Linked DNA regions of Homo sapiens: region 1 is linked to region 2. The links come from fine-mapping of genetic effects on gene expression. A gene starts in region 2. The other region holds a variant in brackets. All regions are shown on one strand. Distances are from middle to middle. Region 1 overlaps LOC124907725 (a long non-coding RNA gene). Region 2 holds the start of RNASEH1 (ribonuclease H1).

Region 1 (15,120 bases), 31 kb after region 2:
CCTCAGCCTCCCAAGTAGCTGGGGACTAGAGGCACACACCACCACGCCTGGCTTTTTAATTTTTTTTTTTATTTTTAGTAGAGACAGGGTTTTGCCATGTTGGTCAGGCTGGTCTCGAACTCCTGATCTCAGGTGAACCGCCTGCCTCACCGTCCCCAAGTGCTGGGCTTACAGGTGTGAACCACTGCGGCCAGCCCATCTTAGCCGTTTTTAAGTGTGCAGTTCAGTGGCATTAGGTACACTCACACTGCTGTACAACCATCAGCACCCTCCATCTCCAGAACTTCTCATCTTCCCAGACTGAAGCTCTGTTCGTGTTGGACACGGACTCCCCAGCCCCTGGCAGCACTGTTCTGCTTTCCATCTCTATGAATGTGACTCCTCTAGGGACCCCGTATAAATGGAATCATGCAGGATTTGGCCTTTTGGGCCTGGCTTATTTCACTGACCCTAATGTCCTCAAGGTTCCTCCACATGGTAGCAGGTGTGAGAATTCCCTTCCTTCTAAGGCTGAAGAATGCTCCATTGTGTGGATGTGGCACAGGATTTTTTCTGTGCCACTTCACCAGCCGGAGACCTCCATGGCCGCTGGCGCCCCTGCCTGGCCTCACTCGGCCCAAGGATCACTGCTGGTGATACTCTGCACATTCGGCCCAGTGGGCTGTGCTCGGCTTGCACCCCGGCCCAGATCCCACGCTTGCCACAGGATCCGCGCTCAGCCGGCGGTTGGGCCGGGCATGCCGCAACCCGCTTCTGCCTTGGGCACCGGTGTCTGGATGAGGGGAACGTGGTGGCACCCAAAACTCAGAGACACCAGGAACCGCAGAGCCCCAAGGGTGTCACAGCTCAACCGTTCCCACCACCTGTGACTTGGCGAGCAGGGCGTGCTACAGCCCTGGTTCAGGGAGTCTGATGTCTGGGCTCTTGGGAAGCACCATAGCTCTAGTTCATTCCTGCCGCCCGCAACTTCAGCAAACGGGTGTGTGGCAGCCAGCAGTTTCTTCTCCTCCACTGCTCAGCAAGCAGGAGGGAGGGTTACAGTGTTACAGCCTTTTTTCACACCCACTGTTCTGCAGGTCCCAAGTTCTTGTCCCACATCCAGAAGAATAAGGTTATGCAGACAACCAGAGAGTGAGCAGGGCAGAAAAAAACTTCTATTGCATGATGGAACAGCTCCCAGCGTTGAGGGGACCTGAGAGTGGGCAGCCACTACCTGAAGGTGAGTAGTCTCTACCCAAAGGTGGTAGTCCCTGCTGTGTGGCTGAGTCCAGGGTTTTTATGGGCTCAGAAAGGGGGAGTGTGTGCTGATTGGCCCATGGGCGGGCCTAGAAAAAAATCACCATTCGATTGGCTAAAAGGTCGTGGACTTAACCTGGAACTGGCAGCTTGGTTTTCCAGCTTCAGGCTATCTTTGGCTTGAAGGTCGGGCTTCACTGGGGACCTGCCCCAGTCTGCCTAGGAATCTGTCTTCTGCTACTATCAGAGGGACCACGCTTCGCTTATCCAGTCGTCATTCACGGACCCTGCATTGTCTCTGCCTCTTGGGCTTTGTGAAGAATGCTGCTGTGAACAGGGGAGTGCCCCTGCCTGTTTGGGTCCCTGCTTTCCATTTCTTTGGGAGGTACGTGGAGAGGAGATTGCGGGGTCATGTGGTCATTCTGTTTGGCTCTTGGAGGAGCAGGCATCCTGTTTTCCACAGCAGCTCTGCCATCAAATGGCACTTTCTTAGTGACACCTCCCGTATCTCTCCCCATAAATGTATCTCTCCCCATAAACATTGCAACTCCTGGCTCACCTTCCTTCTCCTGTAACTTGTCACTGTGGAACTCTCAGGTGTGCCTGAGCCGACTCGTAGCAGCCCAGGAGGGCCAGCAGTGAGGCCCCTTCCCCACTCCGTGGTCAGTGCCTTCACACAGGGAGTTTGGAGGTGGCTGTAGTGGGAGGACTCACACCGCAGAAATCAGCCAGTGCTGCAGGTCAGGGGCCGCCATCCCCCAGAGCTGCTGTGAGACATCGACCAGCACATCAGTGGGCTGCTTTCCGCTGGTTTTATTTGCATGTATTTTGGTCTGTTTCCCTACCTAGAAAATAAACTCCCTGTGGCAGAAGTTTTATCTCTCTGCTCCCTTCTTGGTTCCCAGCTCTTGGAACAGAACCAGACTTCTGGCCGGGGCTCAGTCAGTGCTTGCAAGATGTTTGTTGGCACCAGGCTGTGCCAGGAGAGGTGAGCTCTGAGAGGGCAGTGTGAGGAAGGAGCAAGCCTCGCGGCTCTCTTTGGAGAAAAGGCCCGGGTGACATTTTATGCGTCCTTTCCCTTCCCCTGAGGCAGCACGATCGGCTTCTCTGTGGGCACAGAGGCCTGGGTTCTCGCCTCGCTCTGCCCGAAGGGTGAGCAGCTCCATCAGTCCTGTCTGCGCGGGAGAGCGCCTCCATGCCCCTTAGTGCGGTGCCTCCCAGCCTTTATAATGTCAGGGTACGGCTAGAAAATATGATTTCTACAGCACATCAGGGCCAAATGGAGGGCGTTGTTGGGTGCATCTCTTTGGGCCTCAGTGAACACTTTCACTAAATTCTTTACATGCAATCATGCACTGCATAGCAACATTTCTGTCAATGATGCACTGCATATTCAACAGGGGCCTCGTCAGATGATGATACCGTGTTTTTGCTGTAACTTTCCTATGCTTAGATACACAAATCCTTACCATTGTGTGACAGTTGCCTGCAGGATTCAGAGCAGTGACCTGCTGTACAGGTTTATAGCCCAGAAGCCATAGACTGTGCCACGTGGCCCGGGTGTGTAGTGGGCTGTACCATCTAGGGGTGTGAAATCACCTAAGGACACCTTCCTTAGAACCTATCCCAGTCAAGGGATGCGAGGCTGAGTAACGGGGCCCCTTGGGAGTTCAGCACTCAGCATGTTTCAGTGAGTGACTGAAATAATGAACGTTCTGATCGGGCCCTCTCTGGCTGGCACCTGTGAACCACTCGCTTTGTACCCATTATTTCTTGTTCCCACAGCATCATTATAAACTGCTGATCTACTGTTTCTTTGTCAAACGGGAGGAGATAACATGAGGGTCATGAGAAATGTTTGCAGACGGAGTGAATGCCTTGAAAGTGCTGCGACCAGGTGCTGACACCCGGAGGTCTGGCTGCTCAAAGTGTTAGCTGACACGGAAGACACACGGACTTTCCCTCCATTCCCCAAAACTCCCCTTCCCTGACTCGTCAGCTGCATAAAAACCCTCTCCTTATCTCTTTGTCAAGGGGATTTGAGAAATCTTGCTGTCTTGTCTTCTTGCTTTGGCCAAATGGAATAAACCTTTCTCTGTCTCCAGACACCTATGTCGCAGTGTTCGGCCTCAGCTATACGGCAGGTACATGAACCTGGTATTTGGGCTTCTACAACAATTGTACTTATAGCACAAATAAAGTACAAAGTGTTAGGGAAGACCAAAGACCATAGGTAGAAAACTTGGATACAACTTCCAAATAAACACTCTTCAAAACATTTAATGAGCAGCTTCTGGAAACGTAACTTTTTCCTATCAGGTTTATAATTAAAATAGCTGTAGACTTCCCACCCACAGCTTTTTAATGATGATCTCTTGAAATTATTTTTGGCCTCACGTTGTCATCCAGGCTGGAGTGCAGTGGAGCAATCATAGCTCACTGCAGCCTTGAACTCCTGGGCTCAAGCAATCCTCCCACCTCAGCCTCTTGGGTAGCTGGAACTACAGGTGTGTACCACCACGCCTAGCTAATTTTTAAATTTTTTGTAAAGGCAGGGTCTCTCTATGTTGCCCAGGCTGGTCCTAACACCTGGGCTCACGCAATCATGGGGAGCTAGAAAATCCTGTCCTTGGAAGAGTGTCCCTGAGTTTTGCACGGACTCAAAAGGAACAGAGCCGCTGTATCCAAATTTCTGCAAATGCTGGAAGCACAGGGTGGCAGCAGAGTTTTAGGGCATATTAAGTTTGTTCCAACTTAATTTGCTTTTTAATGCAATTATTAAGGCTGTTAGAAACTGTTCTTGTTTATACGGAAAAGCCACTGTTTTGTAACAATACCTGCTTACTCTCCTACTGTGTCTTAACACTTTTCCTGTTAATTTCCTTGAGTTTTCCAGGTATGCAATCCCATCATCTGCTAATAATAATACTCTCATTCCTTCTTCCCCATCCTACTACTAATACTCTCATTCCTTCTTCCCCCTCCTACTAATAATAATACTCTCATTCCTTCTTCCCCATCCTACTAATAATAATACTCTCATTCCTTCTTCCTCATACTACTACTAATACTCTCATTCCTTCTTCCCCCCTACTAATAATAATACTCTCATTCCTTCTTCCCCATCCTACTAATAATAATACTCTCATTCCTTCTTCCTACTACTACTAATACTCTCATTCCTTCTTCCCTCCTACTAATAATACTCTCATTCCTTCTTCCTACTACTACTAATACTCTCATTCCTTCTTCCCTCCTGCTAATAATAATACTCTCATTCCTTCTTCCCCATCCTACTAATAATAATACTCTCATTCCTTCTTCCTCATACTACTACTAATACTCTCATTCCTTCTTCCCTCCTACTAATAATAATACTCTCATTCCTTCTTCCCCATCCTACTAATAATAATACTCTCATTCCTTCTTCCTCATACTACTAATACTCTCATTCCTTCTTCCCCCCTACTAATAATAATACTCTCATTCCTTCTTCCCCCTACTAATAATACTCTCATTCCTTCTTCCCCGTCCTACTAATAATAAAACTCTCATTCTTTCTTCCCCATACTACTACTACTAATACTCTCATTCCTTCTTCCCCGTACTACTACTACTAATACTCTCATTCCTTCTTCCCCCTCCTACTAATAATAATACTCTCATTCCTTCTTCCCCATCCTACTAATAATAATACTCTCATTCCTTCTTCCCCATACTACTACTAATACTCTCATTCCTTCTCCCCCCCACTAATAATAATACTCTCATTCCTTCTTCCCCATCCTACTAATAATAAAACTCTCATTCTTTCTTCCCCATACTACTACTACTAATACTCTCATTCCTTCTTCCCCGTAGTACTACTACTAATACTCTCATTCCTTCTTCCCCACACTGTGTCGCTTACACAGTCTCACATCTCATGGCCTCATCTAGCACTCCCTCAACATTTTCCATTCGGGTGATAAATTGGTAGTGAGTGCCTCCAAGCTAAGCACCATCAGTTAGATGTGTTTCTGGCCTTTAGGAAAAGGGATTCCTTGCATTTCAGCAGAAAATGGTGCCTGCCTAAGCCCCGCTGTGGGCCGGGGTCATTTGCAGTGTGGACCACCCAGTCCAGGGTGGGGGCCCTTCCTGTGGCTCACTGCAATGGTGGCAACGGGGCCGGGCCAGGGCACAGCAGTGGACTGACAGGGCTGGAGGGAGAGAATGGGTGCCCGTTCAGAGATCGCTGGCGTTGTGTCCCAGGGCACCATACACAGAGGAGTGCAGGCAGGTGAGATGGGAGACAGAGGGCAGGGGCAGTGAAGGGCGATGCTTTGCCCTGGGTGATCCTGAGGCTGGCAGGGTGGCCAGTGCCGCCAGGCCCAGAGCTTTGCCCCGCGTGAGGCACACAGAATGGGGGCCTTTTGCGCACATCACGAGACTGCTTCAGAGTTTCAGGTGTCTTGAAATGTCTGTCAGTAGGGACATGCGGGTCCCACTGGAGATTTTAGTACATATTTCTTCCTTCCACAATTTGTACAGTAACAGTCATGGCAAACAACTACATACATGTGGTGGTGGTGTGGTGGTTGGTGTTGGCCCAGGCTGGAGTGCAGCGGCGCGATCACCGCGCTCCGCGGCCTGGACCTCCTGGGCTGGGGCGATCCTCCCACCTCTGCCTCCTGAGCGGCTGGGACCACAGGTTCAAGCTACAAATCCAGCTTCTGCATTTTAAATTCAGAAAATTAGTTCCTTCAGGCTAAATTAAAGAAGATAAGCCAAGTTTCGTGTGCATATGTATTTTGTGGGATATTCACTTGTTCCAGCACCGTTCGTTGTTGAAGCTAACGTGATGTTAAAACTACGTATTTTTAAATAAGTATCGATTCACAGGCAGGTGCAGAAAAAGTGCAAGGAGGCCCTGGGTCTCCTTCACACACTTCCCCCCAGGACAGTGTCTTGCACAGGTATAGATAGGTGCGTTTTAAAATTTATCTTAAGTAAATAATAAAAGTGGATAAAACATGAACAAGAATGTTTTTGAAACATTATTTATAAAAGTCACAAACAGCAAAAATCTAAAAAGCAACAATAGAAGTGCATTTACATAAACGACAGCTCCGTGTTGCAGTGGAGTCCTGCGGGTCATTAGGAAGTGATGTCCACATGTGGCCATGTGGCTCTTGGCTCTCAACGTGTTAGAAGTCAACATATGGCCGGGCGAGTTTCCCCGACAAGGCCGTTTAGAGCTGCGCCCGGGAAGGTGGGCACGAGGGAGGTGGCACAGGGGCGGGGGCTCGCAGGCTCCCCAGGGGCGTGCACTGCAGTCTCCAGGAGGGCGACGCGCAGAGCTCCCCAGTGTGGTGAATGCCCCTGCACGTGTGGGCAGAGTGCAGGGCATGCGCACAAAGGAAGGGTCACGGAGCAGCGCGCAGGCCTCAGCGGGGATCTTAGTGTGATGAGAGGCCAGGGTCCAGGCGTCACTCTGCGGGCGGGCGGCGTTTCTCAGTGTGACACACCCCCTGAGGTGGCCCGTGAGGTGGAGCAGCCAGGCCCGGCTTTGGCATCGGGCTGCTGTGCCCTACACCCGAGAGAGCCGCAGGCAGCCCGGCTGCAGAAGCGTTCACTCTCGGTCCTCCCCAGAGGCTCAAGATGAGGGTGGGATCCCCGCGGGCTGAGGAGCGCTGGGCCAGGAGCTCAGCAGACGGTTCCGGACTCTGCGCCGCCGCCCACCAGCCTCCCACCGCCTCGGCCCACAAGCTCCCCAGACGCAGACGGCTCCTCCAGCACCTGTGCAGACGCAAGGGCGCGCGCACACACACACACACACACAACACACCATATACAACACGCCACACACACCACACACACCACACAATTCACCACACACCAGACA[A/C]CACACACCATACACAACACACAATTCGCCACACACCACACACCATACACACCACACAACACATACCACACAGCACACCACACACAACACACACCACACACCACACCACACACAACACACACCACAGACAACACACACATAACACACCATACACAACACACACCAAACCCATCACACACCACACAACACACACAGCACACATACTACACACAACAGACCACACACCATAGACAACACAAACACAACACACCATACACACCACACACCACACACAGCACATACACCACAGCACACACACCACACACACCATAGACAACACACACAACACATACCACACACACCACATACAACACACACCACACACCATACACACATCACACACACCACACATACACCATACCATAAACACACCACACAACATACCATACATACACCACACACACCACACATCACACCCTACACTACAGATACCACATACACACACCATACTACACATATACATCACACTATACCACACACCCCACACAACACACTACACACCACAGACACAGTACACCACACCCATGTCACACCACACACGCCATACACCACACTTACCACACAACACACACAACACACCATACCATACACACTCCACCATACACACACCACACACATTCAACACACAACATACTATACACATACCACGTACACCAGGCATTACACACACCAAACACACACCACAGTATACACACACATCACACACACCACAGACACATCACACACACCACACAACATACACATACCACACACATTCAACACACAACATACTATACACATACCATATACAACAGGCATTACACCACACACACCACAGACACACATCACACACAGCACACAACATACACCATACCATATGCACACACCACTGCCCTCACACAACACACCATACACACACCACACACCAGCAACCCCCCTTCCGCGCACACAGCACTGCGCTCCCACCCTGTGCCACGCTCTCTGCCCCACCCTGTGTGATTTTTCTCTTTTGAGGGGGTGGTAGGGGGGCGCCCTGCAGACTGGGGGAAGAGTGCAGGCTGGGTGGGGGGGGGGGCGCGCCTCTGAGCCCTGCGCCCTCCCTGTGTCCCGGGACGCCAAGCTCCGGAGTCAGGGTGTGTGGAGCCCGTGCTGCCGGCCTGCTGGTGGTGACTCGGCCAAGGAGCGTGGAGCCACCTCTCCGACTCCTAAAGCGACTCGAGTCGTTCGCCCTTCTTGGGTTTTTGCTTCTCTGCCTTGGCCTTCCCAGCCCCCAACATTGGTGTTCACCGAAGAATGTTCTATGGAACATTTTCGGAGTCAGTAGATGCCTCTGCCCTAAGAGCCAACAGTTGTGTTACCTGAAACAGTGTCTTCATCGCAAGCCTTCCCACTGCCCAGGACGGAGCTAGGACCGGGTTTTCTCACATTTTTTTTTTTAACCTCAAAACCCTTTTTGCTATTCACCTCACAACTTAGGTGACATGAGACACATTTTGGGAAACGTTTTGGGGGCAGTGTGACCTTGAAGATGATGACAAATGCAGAATGAGATACCCTGGAATGGACATGTGGTTAGATTTCATCCTGGGGGCACGGAGGTCTGGCATAATTCACTGAAATGCTGTAAACCAGCCTGCATTTTCTCCCAGGAAAAAAACCTCCATCTTTACTTCAAAGAAGATGTATGAAGATCAAGAGAAATGTTTTCCTTTTAATTAGTTTCAACCACATTTTGCTGACTGTGTCCTCCAGGCAGCTGTTTCTGAATATGCTGCTTCTTTCTGAAGAAATCCATACCCACACTCCCTTTTTTCAATTAAGAAAATTTACATGCACAGATGGGTTGCTTGTTGATTTATAGAGAACACAACTTTTTTTATTATTATTATTATCATTTTTTGAGATGGAGTCGTGGTCTATCACCCAGGCTGGAGTGAAATGACATGATCTCGGCTCACTGCAACCTCTGCCTCCCAGGTTCAAGCGATTCTCCTGCCTCAGCCTCCCGAGTAGCTGGGATTACAGGTGCCCACCACCATTCCCAGCTCATTTTTGTATTTTTAGTAGAGACGGGGTTTCACCATGTTGGCCAGGCTGATCTCAAACTCCTGACCTCAGGTGATCCATGTGCCTCAGCCTCTTAAAGTGTTGGCATTACAGGCGTGAGCCACGGCGCCCGGCCTATAGATAACATAACTTTTTTAAAATTGAAAATTTTCAAAAAATTTGAAATACACAAGAGAATGGTTTGTTGACCATCCAAATACCTCTGTCACCTACCTTCAATAATTATCAACACTTGCTACCCTAATTGGGAACGGTATTCTGGAAGTGGTTTTTTTTCATGTGCAGTACTAGGCGTGACTCTGATACAGGAATCTATTACAGTCTCCTGTCATTTTAGGTATCATCTGTGAACCTGCCTGCCTTCCTTGACTTGTAGGGTCTGGGACAGTCTCACTGGTTGTCATTACACAGGTCTTAGTGTTAACCCCAGGCTTATTTATAGAGACACCCTTGCTTTCACTGCAAACATACTATATTCTTAGCTGTCAGCTGTCAACTGCTCCTGAAACAACCCTTTTTACCCAGGTGCTCCTCCGCAGCTTCTAGCCATCCACCCGTCTTCCATTATTTATCATACCTCTGGTCCCTTACTGTTTTCTCTATTTCCCAGCAAGCCCTTCAGGCTGTTCCATTTAGAAGACATTAAGTCAGTTTTGGCCCTCCCAGGAAGAGTGGTGTAGACTCAGCCTCCTCCACAGAATGGTGTCTGCCCTGGCAGCACTCAGACTGGGTTCAACAGGGAACAGCCAGGAGGGTATGAGACCTGAAGTCGTGGCATTGAGAGCAGCTTTGCTCGTCTCTTTCACTTGCAAGCTGTTGGAAACACTCACCAGTAGGACACCTTGGCAGCTTAGTATTTGTCATGGACGTCTGGCCTGTCGGTCTGCCCTTCCACCGCCCCTCTCCCTGACCAGTCGTGGGGCTGAGGGGCTGCCAGGCAGAGCACCTCCCAGACTGGGCACCCGGCCAGGCCCAGGGTAGTGGAGTCTGCACCTCGGGCTCCCAGAGAGATCTAAAGGGCTTGCAGTCTGGAATCTCCCATGAGACTGGATATCCCATCATTACATAACAGAGCTCTTTTGCCTTGAATTGCAAGCAAGTGCAGTCTTAGAGCTACTGGCGGCTGTTTTCTGACCCATGCAGAGAGCTCTTTTTAGTAGCTGAGTATTCAGACAAGGCACAGAGAAAAGAGGGTTGAGATAGGGAGGAGAGAGAGAAAGAGAGAAGGAGAGACAGAGGGAGGAAGAGAGACAGGAGGGAGAAAAGGGGGCAGAAAGAGGGAGAGAAGAGAAGAAAAGCTAAGTGAAGAGAGAGACACACACATATGGAGAAGATAGAGACAAAGAGACATAGACAGAGCTGTTAACATACTTTCAGCCCTGAATCCTGCCATGCCCAAGGTGCGTTCTGCTCTAACCCTTCTCATTTATGTGATCCAACATATCTTTGTTCCCGTTTGTTTGCTTAGGTAACTTGGACTTTTCTTTTTTTGAGATGGAGTCTCACTCTGTCGCCCAGGCTGGAGTGCAGTGGCGCAATCTTGGCTCACTGCAACCTTCACCTCCCGGGTTCAAGTGACTCTCCTGCCTCAGCCTCTTGAATAGCTGGGATTACAGGTGTGCACCACCATACCCAGGGTTTCACCATGTTGGTCAGGCTGGTCTCGAACTCCTGACCTTGCGATCTGCCCGCCTCGGCCTCCCAAAGTGCTGGGATTACAGGCATGAGCCACCGCGCCTGGCCAACTTGTTGGATTTCTGTCACCTGCAACCTAAAGTACCCTGAACAAAAAAGATGAGAGCTGTGGTTCTTACAGTATGGAGATGTTTGAAGTCAAAACTATTTGTCTCACAATGCCAGGATGACATGTACCTTCTTCTCTGTGTTGAGCACTGCCCTCATGGTGCAAAGTCAGTGATGGGCTCAGCTCTCCGTGCCCAAGAGAGCCACGACATGGTACACACTGTACCAGCAGTCATTGTGTTTTTCACACACCTGCACTGGAACAACAGAAACAAAAACAAACCCCCGCTTCTCTTAAGAATGTCTTTAATGAAGCTGTAAAAATGACTGGTTTTATTAAATTTTGACCTTTGAGTAGACATCTTTCTAACATTCTCTGTGACAAATTGGGAAGTACACAGGAAGCATTTCTGCTGAATAGCTGAGTATGACTCAGGGAAATATTTTGGTTTTCCCAAGCTCAAAGTTCCTCCCCTGTAATGCAACCCACTGAAGATGCAGGTATCATCCCTTTTCAAGTTCCCTTGGTGGGGACTGGCGTTCAGCAACCTGTGCAAAACTGCAGACACTGTGGCCCCTGCTACCGCTGTTGCTCCTGAGTAATAGGCTGTGTTTTATCTCTGAGCCGATAATCTCTTGACTTCTGTTAACACCCATGAATCTGGGACAGGCTAATTTCTTAGCTTGCAGAGTGTAAACATCTCCGACTCTTGGCAGTTCTTTCCACAGGCCAGAAGTAAAGTACACTTGATCATCAGATAAAAATTAACTATTATTAATAGTGCATGGCAGGCATTGGCAAACTCCAGGCTATGAGCCAGATTCAGTCTGCTGCCTGTTTTTGTATGTTCCATGAACTAAGAATGGTTTTTATGCTGTAATGTGGTTGTTGTATAAATACCTACATACTATCCTCAATTTTGACTCGATCTACAAAACCTAAACGATTTACTATCTGGCCTTTTCCAGAGAAAACTTGCTGCCCGTCTATAGAGCCTTATCTGCGTTCCACATTCCAGCAGTTTGGATCTTCCTGTTCTTCTGTGGCTCTACTGTATCCCTATATGGTTTGTTAACGCGCCCCTGGGTTGGGAGCATATCACAAAGCCCAGACGGATAACAGTCTGCGCAGGTCTGCGGCGATGGCGACCATCTGTCTTTCAAAACATCTAAACAGATTCTTCCCAAGTGTCTTACATCGGGGTGATAAATTCTGGTCATGAAACATATTTTTGGGCTGCTGCTGGCTATTCTTCTGGAAGAGACAGTTCAAGTTCCAAAGATTCCTCTTCAAAGGAGGAATCCCATGGGCCGGCAATGTCCGTATGAAGTAATGAGTGCTGTTCTCATCTGATTCTGCCCGCTTGAACTCCTGCCAGCAGCAAGTGCTGGGCTGCCTTGGCAATTCCTCAGAGCCTCTCCATCATCTTGCTTTTCTAAAGTATGTTTTTTATGGCATAAAACTGTTTCCCCCATACCTAATAGGAAAAAAGGAACAGCTACTGAAGACAGAGGCTGACAAATGGTAGATACATAATGGTGTGGGGCTGCCGCAGCCTGGGGGTGGGAGGGGAACCGGAAGCACTCTTCCAATTTCAAGATGAAGTTTATTCTACGATGGGATGAAACCCACATCATTACTTCTTGTACTCGATTTTAGCAGTTATGTGTACAGGCTGTTGGGCTGGGCTCCCCAAGCTCAAATACCAGCTTTGTCACTTCTGGTTGTGTGACCATAAGTTACTTCACCTGTTTGTGTCCTAGTTGTCTCATTTGTTTTTAAGTGATATGGGGTCTTGCTGTGTTGCCCAGACTGGTCTCAAACTCCTGGGCTCAAGCAGTCCTCCTGCCTCAGCCTCCCATGTCTCATCTTTAAAATGTGGATAATAAGTCATACCAACTTCACAGTGTAATCATGAGGAGTAAAAATAATAATATGCATCAAATCTTTAAAATGTTACCCAGCACACACTACTATTATTATTGTCACAATTACTATTTTCTTTTTAATAAAAATATTTTTTGTAGAGATGGGGTCTTGCTGTATTGCCCAGGCTGATCTGGAACTCCTGGCCTCAAGTGATCCTCCCACCTTGGCCTCCCAAAGTGTTGGGATTACAGGCATGAGCCACAGCACCCAGCCTAGTACTACTATTTTCTAGTAAATGAGAAGCATTAGATATGAGATAGGAGTGCAGTTACAGTAAGACAGTAAAGACTATTTGGAGTGTTCCTCATCCTATCCCTTCATTCAACAAACTTTTAAAAAAATTGTCTACTATGTACCAAGCACTGAAGGACTAATAAGACACATTCTCTGACCTCAAGGTATATGCGGCACTCAGCAATACAGACAAATCCATTCATTCAGCAAGTACCAAACAACACATGGAGTGGTCAGTCCTTTGGTGAAAAGACATCAAGTCAACATGTCCTTACAAACTCTAAGCTAGCACCATGGCAGTGTTTCACACGGAGAGCCCATCTAGTTGTCTAGGGAGTGGTCAGAGAAGGCTTCTCTACGAAAGGGATAGTTAAGCTGAAATTAGAATTTTGTATAGGAGAAAAGTACTTGGAGGAAGGAAGAGCATTTTCAGTGGAAAAACTGCATGGGTGAAGGGCCCAAAGGAAGGAGGAGCATATGACTCAAATACACTGAAAGGCCAAAGTATCTGGAGGACAGAGAACAAGAAAGGAGGGCGATGGGCTGTGAGGTGGTCAGGCCGAGGCTATAGAAAGGAGGGTTGAAGCAGAAAAGGGGCTTGACTGGATTCCATGTTTTTTTGTTTGTTTGTTTTTTGAGACAGAGTCTTGCTCTGTCACCCAGGCTACAGTGCAGTGGTACAATCTCAACTCACTGCAACTTCAGACTCCCAGGCTCAAGCAATCCTCCTGTCTCAGCCTGCAGAGTAGCTGGGACTAGCGGTGCAAACCACCACGGCCAGCTAATTTTTGTACTTTTAGTAGAGACGGGGTTTCACCATGTTGCCTCGGCTGGTCAAGTGATCTACCCTCTTTGGGCTCCCGAAGTGCTGGAATTACAGGCGTGAGCCACAGTGCCTGGCATCTGGCTCCTATTTTTAAAAGGTCACTCTGGGTGCTGTGCATAGAATGGATTGCACTGGGGCAAAAATGGAAGCGGTGTGAGGAGGGGGAATTTCAGTAGTCAATTCCATCAGGCAAGAAAAGACTGCAGAAAGAGTTGGGCTGGAGAGAAGTGAATGGATTTGCGGTGTGTTTCGAAGGTCAAAGCAACATGACTTGCTGATAGATTGGATTGGATCTTGAGGGTGAGGAAAAGCAAAACTGAGAGTACACCTAGATTTTTTTATTAAGCCACTGGGCAGTCAGTGCTGCCGTTCACTGAGACGGGAAAGGTTAGGGAGAAGCATGTTTGGGGGTGTGTGTGGGGAATCAGTTGTTTTGGCCATGTTAGGTTTGACACACTGATTAGCCATGTATGTGACAACACCAACTGGATACTCAAGCCTGAGGTTCTGGAATGAGGTCCAGGTTGGAGATGTGGCTGCAGGAGCCGGCAGCACAGCATGGAAAGTCGCCTGGAGTGAGTGGATAGGAACAGGACGAGGAGAGTCTGGAACGCTCCACTAACCAGTGGTTAGAGGAGCAGGAGCTAGGAGGGGCCTGGGAAGGAGCAGCCAAGATGCCCTCATGAAGGAAAATGAGAAAATGTTTCAAGAAGGGCGTGGGCAACTGTGACGAATGTTGCTGGTAAGAACAGAAGTGCCATGATTGGATCTGGCAATATGGCAGTCATTAGCAGTTCCCCAGTGGTGAGAAGCGAAGCCTTATTGCAGTGGCTTAAGGAGAAAATGCGAGGTGCGAGATTGCCATTAGATTCTTGCATGAAGGTTTGTCATGAGTGCTGCAGAAAAATGGGCAATGGCGTCTAAGGTGTGTTCTTGAAGGATGAGTAGTAACTGGTCAAGTGAAGAGGTGGAGAGGTAGGCTCTCTAAGGAGGATGTATTTGCAAAGCCATTAGAGCAAGGGAACAGAAATGAAATAAGTGTGTATTTTTCTTGCAATATTTCTGGAAGTTCAAGAGTCAATTGCATGCATTGGGGTTGTGCTCTTACAGCAGTCTCATTTAAATCCTGTCTGCTTTATCGTTATTTGTTAAAGAGACTGAGGGAATGGCTGAGATAATCTG
Region 2 (15,120 bases):
GCAGCCTTAGCCTCCCAGGCTTAAGCAATCCTCCACCTCAGCCTCCCAAGAAGTTGGGACCACAGGCACGCTTGGCTAATTTTTAAATTTTTTTGTAGAGACAGGATCTCACTATGTTGCCCAGGCTGGTCTCAAACTCCTGGCCTCGAGTAATCCTCCTCCGTTGACCTCCCAAAGCATGAGCCAACGTACCTGGCCAAAAAAAATAAATTTCAATTGTATTTTATTTATTTATTTATTTAATATTTTTTTGAGACAGAGTCTTATTCTGTCGCCCAGGCTGGAGTGCAGTGGCCCAATCTCGGCTCCCCGGGTTCTAGCGATTCTTCTGCCTCAGCCTCCTGAGTAGCTGGGACTACACGCCCGTGCCACCACGCCCAGCTAATTTTTGTATTGTTAGCAGAGACAGGTTTTCACCATATTGGCCAGGCTGGTCTCGAAATCCCGCCTCGGCCTCCCAAAGTGCTGGGATTACAGGCGTGAGCCACCACTCCTGGCTAAATTTCAATTTTAAAGACATTATTTGAATTCAGTAAAATGTGTAATATATGAGCTAAAATCCACACTATAACAAAAATATTTCAGCTTGCGGTTCCCACCGCCCTGTTTCACTGATTCAAATTTTAAGCACAAGTGATCACATGGAATGAAGTGAAGTAAAGCAAGTTCTCCTCGTTTGTCTTTATAGTCATAGTGCTACCACGGTTCACTTCAAACCTGCTGTTTACATGCAGGAGGTTGCAGTGCCCATCAGCTGGATCAAACTGTGCCTGAAGCTAGCACTCTGCTTCTGAACCAAATAAACTTCTTGTGGCTGAACGAAGACGTGTTGGAACCAAGTGCATAGCTGGGAGCCCTTGGGATTAACTCCCATGTAAGACATGTTTGTTAAAAGATTAGGGATAAAAATGGAATTATACACATATAATTACAAGAAAGTTTTTTTTCTGGGAAGAGTATTTATCACTGACAGTGTTTAGAATTCCCGGTGCTCAGTTATAATAACAGAGCACCCTGACTTTCAGTCGGCTTGATCAGTCTTTTTTTTTTTTTTTCGAGACGGAGTTTCACTCTCGTTGCCCAGGCTGGAGTGCAACGGCGCGATCTCGGCTCACCACAACCTCCGCCTCCCGGGTTCAAGCGATTCTCCTGCCTCAGCCTCCCGTGTAGCTGGGATTACAGGCACACGCCACCACACCTGGCTAATTTTGTATTTTTAGTAGAGATGGGGTTTCCCCATGTTGGTCAGGCTGGTCTCGAACTCCCAACCTCAGGTGAGGCTTGATCACTCTTTTAGGTTCTCTGTGGCTAAGGTGACGCCCACACCCGAATGAAGTTCCCCTTCCCCAGCCTCAGGCATCCATGGCAGGAGGTGAAGTTGTGGGGATTGTTGATAATGGATGGAATGTGAACGAGTTGCATCAGGAAATGCAGGCTGAGCACAGTGGCTCCCGCCTGTAATCCCAGCCCTTTGAGAGGTCAATACAGGAGGATTGCTTGAGGCCAGGAGTTTGATTCCAGCCTGAGCAATATAGTGAAACCTTGTCTCTACAAAGAATTTTTTTTCTTTTTTTTCAGAGACAGGGTCTCGCTCTGTTATCTAGACTGGAGTGCAGTAGTGTGATCATAGCTCCCTGTAACCTCAAAACATTTTTTTTTTTGAGACAGAGTTTCACTCTTTTTGCCCAGGCTGGAGTGCAGTGGTGTGATCTCAGCTCACTGCAAGCTACACCTCCCAGGTTCAAGCGATTCTCCTGCCTCACCCTCCCAAGTAGCTGGGATTAAAAGTGCCTGCCACCACGCCCGGCTAATTTTTTGTATTTTTAGTAGAGACGGGGGTTCACCATGTTGGCCAGGATGATCTCAATCTCTTGACCTCATGATCCACCCGCCTTGGCCTCCCAAAGTGCTGGGATTACAGGCATGAGCCGCCACACCCGGCCTCAAAACATGTTTTTTTTTTAATTATACAGGAGGCGCACACCTGTAATACCAGCTATTTTGGAGGTTGAGGTGGAAAGATGACTTGAGCCCAGGAGGTTGAGGCTGCAGTGCGCTATGATTGCGCCAATGCACTCCAGCCTCGGCGACAGAGCAAGACCCCGTCACAACAACAAAAAATGAGAAAATGGACATTTATGGCAAACTACTTCTGCCCCGAGATTTCCTGTGGGTTCTGCGTGATTGGCTCTCAGGGTGTGGGCAGCTAAGGTTCCAAAGTGTACTGTTTAATCCTAGCACAGCACAAATGGCTTGCAGGAGATAAGGCAGAATCTCATCAGCACATCAGGGTAAGCACCCAGCTATCATGGGCTAGACCCATGGAGAAGCCGTGCTCTGGGAACCCCCCTCCTCCTTCACTAGAGGCAATGAAATGAAGCAGTAGCTCCTGCTCTGACCTTACTGCTCCCAGAGTCCTTGTGGGTACTAGTTCCAGTCTCAGACTAACAGCCAGAAGATCTGCCATTGAAGTTTCAGTTCCAAAACTAATGCGATGACTTTGGGTAAGTCATAAAACCTCAAGGGTCAGTTTCTTCATCTGTTAAATAAAATCGACATCTGCCCTGCCAGCCTCACAGGGTTGTTTTAAGAAGGAGATGGAATAACAGAAATGAAGGAGGGAGGCCGGCTGCTACCACAGGGCAGGGACTATCACCCACTGTGGCCTCCAACCTGATGGTGCCTCAGAGTCAGCTGGGGCTGCCCAAACACAAACCGCCGGGCTCCACCCCCAGGGATTCCCATGCTGAGGTCCGGGTTGAGGCCCAGAATTTCCATGTCTAATGAGTGCCCAGGTGGTGCTTTTGCTGCTGATCCAAGGACCACACTTTGAAAACCATGACTTAGGTTTAGGAGGACGGGCTCTGGAGGCAGGTTTGAGTCCTGGCTGTACCACTTCCTGTCTACATGTCTGAGGACAAGTGACTTAATCTTTACATTTCAGCTTTCTCAGCTATAGACAATATAATATTGAGAGTGCAAATTAGTTCAACCATTGCGGAAAGCAGCATAGTGATTCTGCAAAGAACTTAAAACAGAACTACCATGCAACCCAGCAATCCCATGACTGGGTATATACCCAGAGGAATCTAAATCGTTCTACCATAAAGACACATGCAGGTGTATGTTCACCACAACACTATTCATGATAGCAAAGATGTGGAATCAACATAAATGCCCATCCACAGTAGACTTGACAAAGCAAATGTGGTACATTTACATCGTGGAATACCATGAAGCCATAAAAAAGGAACGAGATCATGTCCTTTGCAGCACTATGGATAGAGGTGGAGGCAAGCTAAGGCAGAAACAGAAAACCAAACACCGCGTGTTCTCACTTATAAGTGGGAGCTCCACAGCGAGAACACAGGGATATTAGGAGGGGAACGGTGGGCAACGGGGCCTACCTGAGGGTGGAGGATGGGAGGAGGGAGAAGATCCGAAAAAATACCCATCGGGTACTAGGCTTATTCCTCAGTGATGAAATTATCTGTACACCCATCCCCCATGACATGAGTTTACTCATGAAACAAACCTGCACATGGACCCTCAAACCTAAAATAAAAGTTAACAAAAAATTTTCCTGACCAACCTCTTCAGGAAGAGGGGCAATCCTCGTGTCACAAGCAATGCCAATAAAGAACAGGAACGCCACCTTTTTCAACTCCTGAGAGATGAATCCAACGTCTGACCCTGCATTGCATGCACTCTCGCCCACGTCGGCTCTCATCCCCACACTCCTCGTTCCTGTCACCGGCCTATGCTGTAAACACCCTAGCAGTCACAATCAGTCACTTATCTGTCTTATGGGTCTATTATTTCATTCTCTGTCCTGCAACCGAAGCTCTGCGTTGTCTTACCCATGTTTAGAACAGCTCCGTTCAATGATGAGAGTCACACAAGCCATCTAAACTTTTCTGGTGGTCACATTAGAAAAGTAAAACAGCAAGAAATAGTTTTATTATTATTATTAAGATGGAGTCTCACTCTGTCACCCAGGCTGGAGTGCAGTGGGACAATCTCGGCTCACTGTAACCTACACCTCCCGGGTTCAAACGATTCTCCTGCCTCAGCCTCCCAAGTAGTTGGGATTACAGGCACTCACCACCACACCCGGCTGATTTTTGTATTTTTAGTAGAAATGGGGTTTCACCATGTTGGCCAGGCTCATCTCGAACTCCAGACCTCAGGTGATCCACCCGCCTCAGCCTCCCAAAGTGCTGGGGTTACAGGCATGAGCCACTGTGCCTAGCCACTAATTTTAAATGTATTTCTTTAACCCAATATATTCAAAATATTATCAGTTCAACCTGTAATCAATATACAAAATTAACAATGTGTTTTAATTTTTTTGGCAGTAATGAATGCCATGTTGGCTTTTATTATTTTTTTTTTCTAATTTTAAGTTCCAGGATACAAGTGCAGAACATGTAGGTGCTATATAGATAAACATGTGTCATGGTGGTTTGCTGCACCCATCAACCTGTTGTCTAGGTTTTAAGCCCTGCGTGCATTAGCTATTTGTCCTACTGCTCTGCCTCCCCTCGACCCCCACCCCTCTTAAAATTCTTTTTATTTTTCACACTGAGTCTTCAAAGTCCGGTGTGTATCATACAGCACATCTCAATAGCCACATGCAGGCAGGGCGCGGTGGCTCACGCCTCTAATCCCAACACTTTGGGAGGTCGAGGTGGGCATTGGACGATGCAGGTCTGGACAAGTGCCTGGTATATTGTGGGCACAATTCTTGAATGGACCCTGAGAAATAAGCAGAAATGGTTTTGTTATTCCTAATTTACAGAGTATAATAGATAATGGCAATAGTGACTTTTATTTGAGTTTATGTCATGTGTCAGGAATAGGCTATGCATACATTTATTATTTCATCTAAAATCTCATCCTCAAAACAAAAGCCTTTTGCAGTGGGAATTATCACTCCCATTTTTTTTTTTCAGTAGAGAAAATTAAGTTTCAAAGGAGCTAAGTGACTGAGACCACATATACACTCATCTTCTGATTTCTGATCCAGTGTTTGCTCAGGATAAGAAATGTCCTATATTTCTATGAGCCAGAGATTAAGATAAAAAAAGATTTTCAGGAGTAACCAGTCAATGAAAAGTCAAAATAAATAGTTTTGGCAGCCGGGCGTGGTGGCTCATGCCTGTAATTCCAACACTTTGGGAGGCCGAGGTGGGCAAATCACTTGAGGTCAGGAGTTCAAGACCAGCCTCACCAACATGGTGAAAACTTGTCTCTAAAAATACAAAAATCAGCTGGGCGTGGTGGCGCATGCCTGTAATCCCAGCTACTCGGGAGGCTGAGGCAGGAGAATCGCTTGAACCCAGGAGGCAGAGGTTGCAGTGAGCCAAGATCATGCCACTGCACTCTAGCCTGGGCGTTGGAGTAGGACCCGGAAAAAAAAGAAAAGAAAATAAAGAAAGAAGAAAAGGAAAGAAAAGAAAGAAACAAGAAAAGAAAGAAAGAAAGGAGAAAGAAAAGAGAACAAAGGAAGAAAAGACGAAAGAAGGAAAGAAGAAGGAAGGAAGGAAGGAAGGAAGGAAGGAAGGAAGGAAGGAAGGAAGAAGGAAGAGAGAGGGTTTTGGCACTGTGGAAAGTCATGTGGATGATCCTGCAAGCGTCCTCAGGTAATTCCAACCTAGGACTTCTCAGGGAAGATGAGTCCTTGTGATACAGGACCAGCCAGTGGGCACAGAAAAGCAAGCCCTTGGTAGGTCAACCCTCAGATATGCTGACGAGGTGGGGGCAGCTGTCAGGTCATCCTGAGAGCCTTCCCGGGCATCTCTGGGCTTCCTCAGATATCTACACAAGGGTAGGATGATCAGTCATAAATGGACTTTAGGGACAGCTGTGTGTGTCTTTTTATTTTAAAATAAGAATCCGTCTTGAAGTGCAATAGGTAGGAATGAGGAATGAAAGCTATGGCCAATTTAAATTAAAATTAGGAAAGCTGAAATGTTTAAAATTGATGTTCTTTGGCCAGGCACAGTGGCTAATGCCTGTAATCCTAGCACTTTGGGAGGCTGAGGCAGGCGGATCACTTGAGGTCAGGAGTTCGCAACCAGCCGGGCCAACATGGTGAAACTCTGTTTCTACTAAAAATACATAAAAATTAGCCAGGCGTGATGGCGGGCGCCTGTAATCCCAGCTACTTGGGAGGCTGAGGCAGGAGAAATGCTTGAACCCGGGAGGTGGAGGTTGCAGTGAGCCCCAATCGTGCATCGTGCCACTGCACTCCAGCCTGGGCGACACAGCAAGACTCTGTTTAAAAAAAAAAAAAAAAAAAAAAAAAGATGTTCTTCGATTTCACAGAGGAACACAACTTACCACGCCAATGTACGCGTCGCTTTTGCCTGGGCCGTTCCTTCTTCCTAGAATGTCCTGCTTCTTTCTCTTTGTCTAACTCATGTGAATGAACTTTTTAAAAAATTAGTATCCTTCAAAACTGTATTTGCTCAGGCGTTCTGATGTGAGGCCCTCCTGACTCTCCAGGTGCGGGTGCTTCTCTGCTCTGTGTCTCTCACCTCCAACAGCTTGTTCTGCCTGCGCACTATTTGCTGATGTGTTATCTCCGGGGATTCTCGAATTTCTCACCTTCATCCCCAAGGCCTGACAAAATACATGGCAGGTGTGCAAAAGGCTTGTTAGAAGACCTTAAGAAAATTAAAGAAAAGTGGTTTAAAAATAATTCGAATAACAATGTTTGCCAATGGAGACTTTTTTTTTTTTTTTGAGACGGAATCACGCTCTGTCGCCCAGATGCAACCTCCACCTCTCGAGTTCGAGCGCCTCTCCTGCTTCAGCCTCCTGAGTAGCTGGGATTACAGGCGCAGGCGACCACGCCCGGCTAATTTTTGTATTTTTAGTAGAGACAGGGTTTCATCATATTGGCCAGGATGGTCTCGATCTCCTGACCTGGTGATCCACCCGCCTTGGCCTCCCAAAGTGCTGAGATTACAGGCGTAAGCCACCACGCCCCTCCAACCCATGAACACTTTTAAAATTACTTGATTTGCTTACAGAGCAAAAGGTCAAATGGGGAGAATTCTAAAAGTTACCTTCTCAACTCAGTTTTCTCCCGGGTCGTGGTGCTTGAGGCACTGGATATCCCCTGGTTAAACACCCACGTGCAGTGGAGCAGGGAGGGGACGCGCCCCTTCGGGGGTGGGCGCCCAAGGCAAGGGGAGGAATGCGGCTTCCACGGCCTCCCCTCTCGCCCTCCTTTGTGCTTATTCTAATTCATGAATTCTAACATCTTTCTGCCCACTAAAAAATGTGCATTCATTCATCTGGCCACAGCCCTTACTGTAGATCCGCATCCCTGGAGCTCTCGAGGAGCCGCGGTTACCGCACGTGGGTGCCGGGCGCCAGGGGGTTCAAGGGCTTCCCGCGGTGACCCGAGCACGCCGGGGCGTGGCCCCCGAACTGCGGCCTGGGGGCGGGGAGAGAAGGGGCCCAACATGGTCCATCTCGACCTTCCTCTGCCGGGCCCAGGGCTTCAGCCCCGCTCCCATAGGCCCCGCCCCATCCCAGACCTCGCCCGCCTTCGGGATCTCAGCCCTGGCTCCGCTTCTTCAAGTACCGACAGGAAGTTGACGAGTTCGGGCTCGTCAGGGGCCGAGCTCCGGGCTCCGCCCTACGACACCGCCCCTCCCTAGGCCCCGGCCCTCATCAGGACTCCGCCCAGACGTGCGTCATCTTCCCGCGCCGGTGACGGAAGTGCGGTGTTGAGCGCCGGCGGCTCGCGCCCACGCTGGGCCGGGAGTCGAAATGCTTCCCGGTGCCGGGAGTGAGCGATGAGCTGGCTTCTGTTCCTGGCCCACAGAGTCGCCTTGGCCGCCTTGCCCTGCCGCCGCGGCTCTCGCGGGTTCGGGATGTTCTATGCCGTGAGGAGGGGCCGCAAGACCGGGGTCTTTCTGACCTGGTGAGTGGCCCGCCCGCCGAGGCGCCTCCCTGCCGGCATCGGGGTCGAGGGAGGCCGGAGCCCGGCTAACCCCGGCGGCGGGAGCCTGGCGGTCCGAGTCTGTGCCGCGCGCTGTGGCTGTGGGTGGTCGGGGGACCGCCTCGTTTTCCTGCTCGGCCGGCGGGGTTCCAGGAGGCTCATGGCCTGGGACTGGAACGCACCGAAGACTTGTTTGAAATATCAGAAACGTCGCGTAAAGGTTAGGGGTGGCCTAATAAACCCTGTGTTTAATCCTCCATCTTTGTTGCAGTTAAAGTGCAACAAAAAGTGACACGTAATCAGAACGAACCCCCGTTACCAGAAGACTTTCCGTACCAGCTAAATTGGGATTGGAACTCAGTACCTAATCTTCCCTTTTAAAAAAGGCAAATTCTAATAAGCCAGTATTTGCAGTTGGATCCTTGTAACAACCCTTGGAGGTGAGAGGGATTATTCTCACTTTCAGGTATAGTTCTTGGGGTCAGGAAGTTCCCAGGGCATGTAACTGACAGAGAAAGGACTTGAGCCCAGCTGTTCTGACTGTACCACCAGAACTCTTCCCACTACAAGATACCAAAGTTCGTTACCTGTGTTTCCCCATGCACGGCAGCTACAGTATTGAGGAAGAAGCATCTCAGAAGTTGACCTTTTTGTTGTAAAGAAATGGTTAATATTTTTTTCAAAGACCGCAGTATTTTGTTATGCTTTGAGTTTGACGAAAGCCTTATGGTGCTGGTGTGCTGGCTGGCTGGCATACAGTAGAACACAGGTGTAGAGTCTGACGTGCAGGATAAAACTATAAGGTGCGACTCTGCCCTTTTCACGCAAAAATTGGTCCTCTATATCCAGTTTGCATCCTCAGTTTCAGCTAACCATAGATCAAAAATATTTGGAAAAAATTAAAATAGAATACAGTTTTAAAATACGCATAAAAAGACAATACAACTATATAGATTGTATTAGGTATTATAAACTAGAGATGATTTAAAGCATGCAAGAAGATGTGTGTGGGTTATTTGCAAATACACCATTTTATGCAAAGGACTTAAGCATCCTCTGATGTTGGTATCTGTGATGGGGTGGAGGACTTCCTGGAATCAGTCTCCCTCAGATACCAAGGGACAACTGTATTTCCAACCTTAAGAATCTCAATAAAAAAGGGGATAAGTTAGAGAAGGAAGAAGGAAATAACATTGCACATCTTTTCCAGGAATGAGTGCAGAGCACAGGTGGACCGGTTTCCTGCTGCCAGATTTAAGAAGTTTGCCACAGAGGATGAGGCCTGGGCCTTTGTCAGGAAATCTGCAAGCCCGGAAGTTTCAGAAGGTAGTCACCTCTCATATCAGTGTGACATTTTAACCTATTCAAAGGCTTTCATATGCCAGATGGCATTTGATCTATATAGCTACCCTCTAGGCATGTAGGGAACCTCGTGTGATTGTTTTCATTTTACAAATTAGGGAACAGACTGAAAGCAGTTACAAATAGTGGTTCATATTACTTACAGTATTAGGGATAAGCCAGGACTCAGCTCTCCTGTTCCATTCAGCCTTTTATGCCATAATTCCTTGTCTTTTTTTAAAAAAATACTTGTCCAGCCTGGCCAACATGATGAAACTCCATCTCTACTAAAATACAAAAATTAGCTGGGCATGGTGGCGCACACCTGTAATCCCAGCTACTCGGGAGGCTGAGGTGGGAGAATTGCTTGAGCCCGAGAAGTGGAGGCTACAGTGAGCCGAGATTGCACCACTGCACTCCAGCCTGGGTGACAGGGCAAGACTCGTCAAAAAAAAAAAAAAAAAACTTACATAGTTATTGGACTGGATGGGCTACAGTTTACAGGAATGAGTGTGGTTCTTTCCATGGCATGCCCCTTTGTGGTGTTGCCTTTTTATTGAGAACAGAGTCACACAATCTGAATTTCTTCTTTTTTTTTTTCCTTGAGACAGAGTCTCTGTTGCGCAGGCTGGAGTGCAGTGGCACAATCTTGGCTCACTGCAGTCTCTGCCTCCTGCGTTCAAGCGATTCTCCTGCTTCAGCTTCCGGAGTAGCTGGGATTACAGGTGCGTGCCACCACGCCCGGCTAATTTTTGTATTTTTTTTAGTAGAGATGGGATTTCACCATATTGGCCAGGCTGGTCTTAAACACCTGACCTCAAATGATTCACCTGCTTTGGCCTCCCAAAGTGTTAGGATTCCAGGCATGAGCCACCACGCCTGTCCAATTTCTTCCAATTTTATGTGTTATAGAAAGTACGGTTATTCAAAGTTTAAAGCCCAATATAAGATTAATTCCCAATATAATTGGAAGTTTAAAGCCCATTATGCAGACTCAGATGAGCAGGGTGACGACTTTAGAGCGCAAGATTTTAAAAATATTTCTGGATCTACACTGAGGAGGTGATCTTACGTGAATGTTACTTACAAACTTTTTACTATAGCAAATTAAGACTGAGCAGAGCATAGTTTTAATTACCTTATCTTGAACAGCCTCTCTAGAGGCCACTGAGATGCTTGAACCTGAACAACTGCTCCTTCGAATCATCGTAACAATCCTGGACAAAGCACAATTCAGAGCGAGGCAGGTTGTGTCCAGAATGGATCCCTGAAGAGTTAGTTTGCAAAGCAGGGTCGACCCTCACTCAGTGCATCTGCTTCACCCTCTCTCTCTTCAATAGCTTTTAAAGGAGATTCTGTTTGAGAATGAGGACACGTGAAAAAGGCTCATCGATGTGACAGTTCTTACTGCTTACTGCATGACAGCCAATAAGCTGAGAGACAAGGTGTTGGGGCAAGGAAGGCGACTTTTTTCCGAGAGCCAGCAAGTCAAGAAGATGGTGGACTAGTGTCCTGAAGAACCATCTTAAGTTAATAGAACTTGAGACTTCTTTTATGTTAAGGGAAGGGGAAAGAAAGGCGGAGGTGAGATCAGGAGGAGACCGATGAGCACAGACATCTGGATGGCAGCGAGGGTCCAAGGGGATTGTGAAACTTCTCTGTCCTTGGTCAGGCCATGATGCTCCTCCTATAAGTCTTCAACATAACATTGTTATTTGTGTGTACTCCCTCTTTATCTCCTTGGGGGTTAGTTTTGGGAACGGACCACTGTCATCCTTGCTTTAAACTATAAATTCTTCCCATAGTTCACTCGGCCTATACGATACCACTATGGGGATGTTAAGGGAGAATGGAGGCAGTAATGCTGAGCCGCCTCCTCGCTGTTACAGCTGTTCATTTTTCTACCCAGATGGAAAAATCAGTTTGAGACAGAAAGCAGGTTTGAAAATATGGCTTTTTCCTTCTTTGCTGGGTTCCTGATACTTCCTTTTCTTAATTTTCCTTTTCAGTTTTCCTTTTCACAAATTTTTTGTTTTTAACCAATCAGTAATTTATTTGTATCTCAAGTCTTCCAATATAAGTATGTTTCTGTTTTTATTAAGTACTCTGACTCTTAAAGCAAGCTAGTTCTTTTGAATCTACTTCTTTAAACTTTAGAGACCTCCTAGTCAGTGACTTACGTCTATAAATTGAGATTTAGTGCCTTTAATGATTCAGATCTGTATCAAAAAGTCTTAGCCCCTTTTACAGTTTTTTGTTTTTTAACATTACATTTATCCTTATTTTAGAATTATTGAGCTATTTACTGGTTCTTATGGTTTATATAAGCTGATTTAAGGTTAATTTACTTAAAAACCACAATTTTGTGAAGTAAAACTTAACTGACAAGTGTGTTTTTTTCCTCCAAGTCTTATCTGTTCTGTAAAGTGTCCATCTCTGTTATAGTAAGTAAAACCAGTGTTTATATCCGTGTTAAGGTTCTACAAAATGACACTTTAACCTGGACCACAGTATCTGCATTTACTTCAGTAGAGTACCTAGAGGAACGTTTTGGAGATGAGTGTGTGAAAACAAAATGTGGCAGTGGAAACGCCAGCTGTTGCTGACGTCGTGCTGATCACAGTCAAGTGTTGCCCGGCGCCCTTAGGGTTCCGAGAGGTGTGGGTTGAGAAGCTCCACTAGGCTGGACATTTTCTTGTTCCTTTCTAGTAGGCGTTCTGTGATGTTCGTGCCCCATTTCTCCATCCCTGGTTTAGGAGTTGAGAGCTGGAGGTGAATCCTGTAGTGTTGGGTTAGGGTTGTTAGTTTGCAGGTAGTTGGTTGCTCCTGTGTCCTTATTTTCACTCCATGTAAGGAAAAGTCGTTTGAGATCATCTAGCCCAGGGCCTCGTTTTACAGAAGCCCAGAGGGTTTAATTCAGTTGACGGAGTTCGCAGCTGATAAAAGGTATAGCACAAATTGAAACTGGTTTTTTGAGTCCTGGTCTAATTTAGCTGTTCTACTTCAGCTGCCATAGTATTACCCAGTGAGTGAGATATGGGCCCTTCCCAGATAACCCTGAGGTGGTATTAAGAATCTCTTTGGGGCCGGGCGCAGCGGCTCACGCCTGTAATCCCAGCACTGTGGGAGGTCAGGGCAGTGGATCACAAGGTCAGGAGTTCAAGACCAGCCTGGCCAAAATGGTGAAACCCCCATCTCTACTAAAAATACAAAAAAATTAGCTGGGTGTGGTGGTGGGTGCCTGTAATCCCAGCTACTTGGGAGGCTGTGGCAGAGAACTGCTTGAACCAGGGAGGTGGAAGTTGCAGTGAGCCACGATCGCGCCACTGTACTCCAGCTTGGGCACAGAGCAAGACTCTGTCTCAAAAAAAAAAAACTATTTGGGATTAACCTTGAGGTCCCCCTGAAGAAAAACTTCGTTGCAGAAGAAAAACTTTGTTGCAAAAGAAAAGCTGCAAGAGTACTGACCCTGAAGGGACCCAGTTGCTTCCTTTTAGTTTCTGGTTTCTGTTTCCTTTTTTTTTTTGAGACAGAGTCTCACTCTCTCGCCCAGGCTGGAGTGCAGTGGCGCGATCTCCGCTCACTGTAAGCTCCACCTCCTGGGTTCACACCATTCTCCTGCCTCAGCCTCCTGAGTAGCTGGGATTACAGGTGCCCGCCATCACGCCTGGCTAATTTTTGTATTTTTAGTAGAGACAGGGTTTCACCATGTTGACCAGGCTGGTCTTGAACTCCTGAGCTCAAATGATCTGCCCGCCTCGGCTTCCCAGCCCTGTTTTCCTTTCTTAATATGTCCCATTATCTGTTTATTCAAGCTAGATGAACCTGCACCCTCTGAGCCCTCCTAGGGGTTCTTAACTTCGTGTCCATGTAGTTGTATTTGAGGCAGGGAGAGGCTGAACCATGGACACAACTCATCTTTTTTTAGATTTATCTATTTTTAAGCAAAGGGGTCTCACTATGTTGGCCGGGTTGGATTCAAACCCGGGCTCAAGCGATACTCGTATGTCAGCCTCCCGAGTAGCTGGAACTATAGGCACACACCACTGCGCCCAGCAACACCACTGATGTTATATACACAATTTTGGGCCATGTTTTTCCTGGAGAAAGAGCCCCTTGAGATGCTGTGGAGGGGATTGAGATGCTGTGGAGGGGGTGGAGGTGGTGTGGAGGGGAGGGGGTGGTGGTGGTGTGGAGGGGAGGGGGTGGTGGTGGTGTGGAGGGGAGGGGGTGGAGGTGGTGTGGAGGGGGTGGAGGTGGTGTGGAGGGGGTGGAGATGGCGTGGAGGGGGTGGAGATGGCGTGGAGGGGGTCATTCCCTCGTTTCCCTCGTTGTAGGGCCACATAGAGAGGGTGTTTTTAAGTCTGATTTAATGATACTAAATAATTTACTGAATGTCTTCATTCTCTAGCATTTCGTGTTATGTTCATTGTTTCCAGCTCACGAGTGGACTCTTGTCTTTCAGGGCATGAAAATCAACATGGACAAGAATCGGAGGCGAAAGCCAGCAAGCGACTCCGTGAGCCACTGGATGGAGATGGACATGAAAGCGCAGAGCCGTATGCAAAGCACATGAAGCCGAGCGTGGAGCCGGCGCCTCCAGTTAGCAGAGACACGTTTTCCTACATGGGTACATCTTCCTTGGGTTTTCAGATTTTAATACCACAGTCAGGAAAATGTTATGTGTAAAAGGTGTTTCCCACTTGATGGGGGGAGTTTGAGCTGGTGTTTATCATCTTCATTCTTATGTGTAAAGATTATTTAGAAATCACTAAGGCCATTATTTATAATCAAGTAGTGCAGAATTAAACTTTTGGATGTTCTTAGGAAAACCCTTACATGTAAATGAACAACTGTAATCTTTTGAAATACTAGTATTCCCTGTGCATGCAGTACTTAACGTTAAGATGAAATGCGAAGACTCCAGCTTTTTCAAATAACACCTCACACGCAGCTGCTTGTTATAATTGATTAGCACCAGCATTTTAACCTTTCATATTCAATCTTTGGAAAACAAGAGATTCTATTTTATCCTGAGAAGCAAGGTAGTAGTGAACTTTTCTGCTACCTTTCACTCCAGGAATCAGTTATGTATTTAGTGACTCACAGAATAGAATTCTCCTTTGTGTCTTTTACACATATGAGCAGAAAGTAGAAATAAGCATTAAAAAATATAAATCAGTATATTTATAGGTTCTAATTTAATTCAAGGGAAACCAGTAGAAAATGTTTTGCCAAGCTGTATTATTTATAGATATGTTTTGCAGTTACGTAAAAAAAGATCAAACAAGTATTCTTTATTTGGTGATTTACTAGTAGGAATTGAAGCAAAGATTTGTGGAGTTGCAGGGAGATGAGCCGTTTCCAGACACTGACCATTGCTGGAGGCTTGGTGGCCTGGAACATGGCGGATAGCAGGTGCTGGCTCCTGAGACAGTTCAGTGGCTGGGTGGGAAGCTTGTAGTCATGCTGATACAGTTAAGTTCCAGCTGAACGGAGGAGCCCTGCCCAACACCCACACTCCCCTTGGCTCTCAGCCCCGCTCCTGTGAGGAGCACATCCCCATCTTTGCCCCTTCGCCACTGCTGAGCTCAGTCTGCCGTCCTTCGGACAAGTACTTCCACTTCCTGCGCGTACCACCTCTATTTGCCCTCTCGCCCAGCTCTTTTAACACTGTGCAACCTGACCTCTGATCCCACCACACTACTGAAGTGTCCTGGTCACCAGTGGCCTGAGAATGCCCCCGTCAGTCCTTTTTTACCTTGTTCTTTACAGCCTTTGTGTGTCAATCATACCCTCTATCTAGAGGGAAAGAAGCA

The links. PIP is the estimated chance that this variant, and not a neighbour inherited with it, causes the effect.
Region 1: its variant is the best candidate, but not a certain one, in a credible set for the expression of RNASEH1 in whole blood (TOPMed, PIP 0.50).

Annotation. Positions count from the first base shown.
Region 1 is chr2:3,520,212-3,535,331 of GRCh38, reverse strand. It overlaps LOC124907725 (a long non-coding RNA gene), which reads right to left. Exons shown (of 2, transcript XR_007086195.1): 2 at 11,238-12,426. It also overlaps a transcript of RNASEH1 not described here. Among named protein-coding and RNA genes, the nearest start is that of ADI1, 8.2 kb to the right of the region's middle. RefSeq lists enhancers at 6,667-6,726, 15,093-15,120. The variant A/C (reference allele first, on the strand shown) is at 7,121.
Region 2 is chr2:3,550,955-3,566,074 of GRCh38, reverse strand. It overlaps RNASEH1 (ribonuclease H1), which reads left to right and starts at 7,742. Exons shown (of 8, transcript NM_002936.6): 1 at 7,742-7,942; 2 at 9,171-9,286; 3 at 13,767-13,931. The coding sequence starts at 7,815. It overlaps RNASEH1-DT (RNASEH1 divergent transcript), which reads right to left and starts at 7,689. Exons shown (of 3, transcript NR_038429.1): 1 at 7,077-7,689; 2 at 6,346-6,627; 3 at 4,325-4,758. RefSeq lists enhancers at 1,386-1,435, 1,486-1,535, 5,079-5,976, 7,641-7,890 and silencers at 7,291-7,610, 7,981-8,080.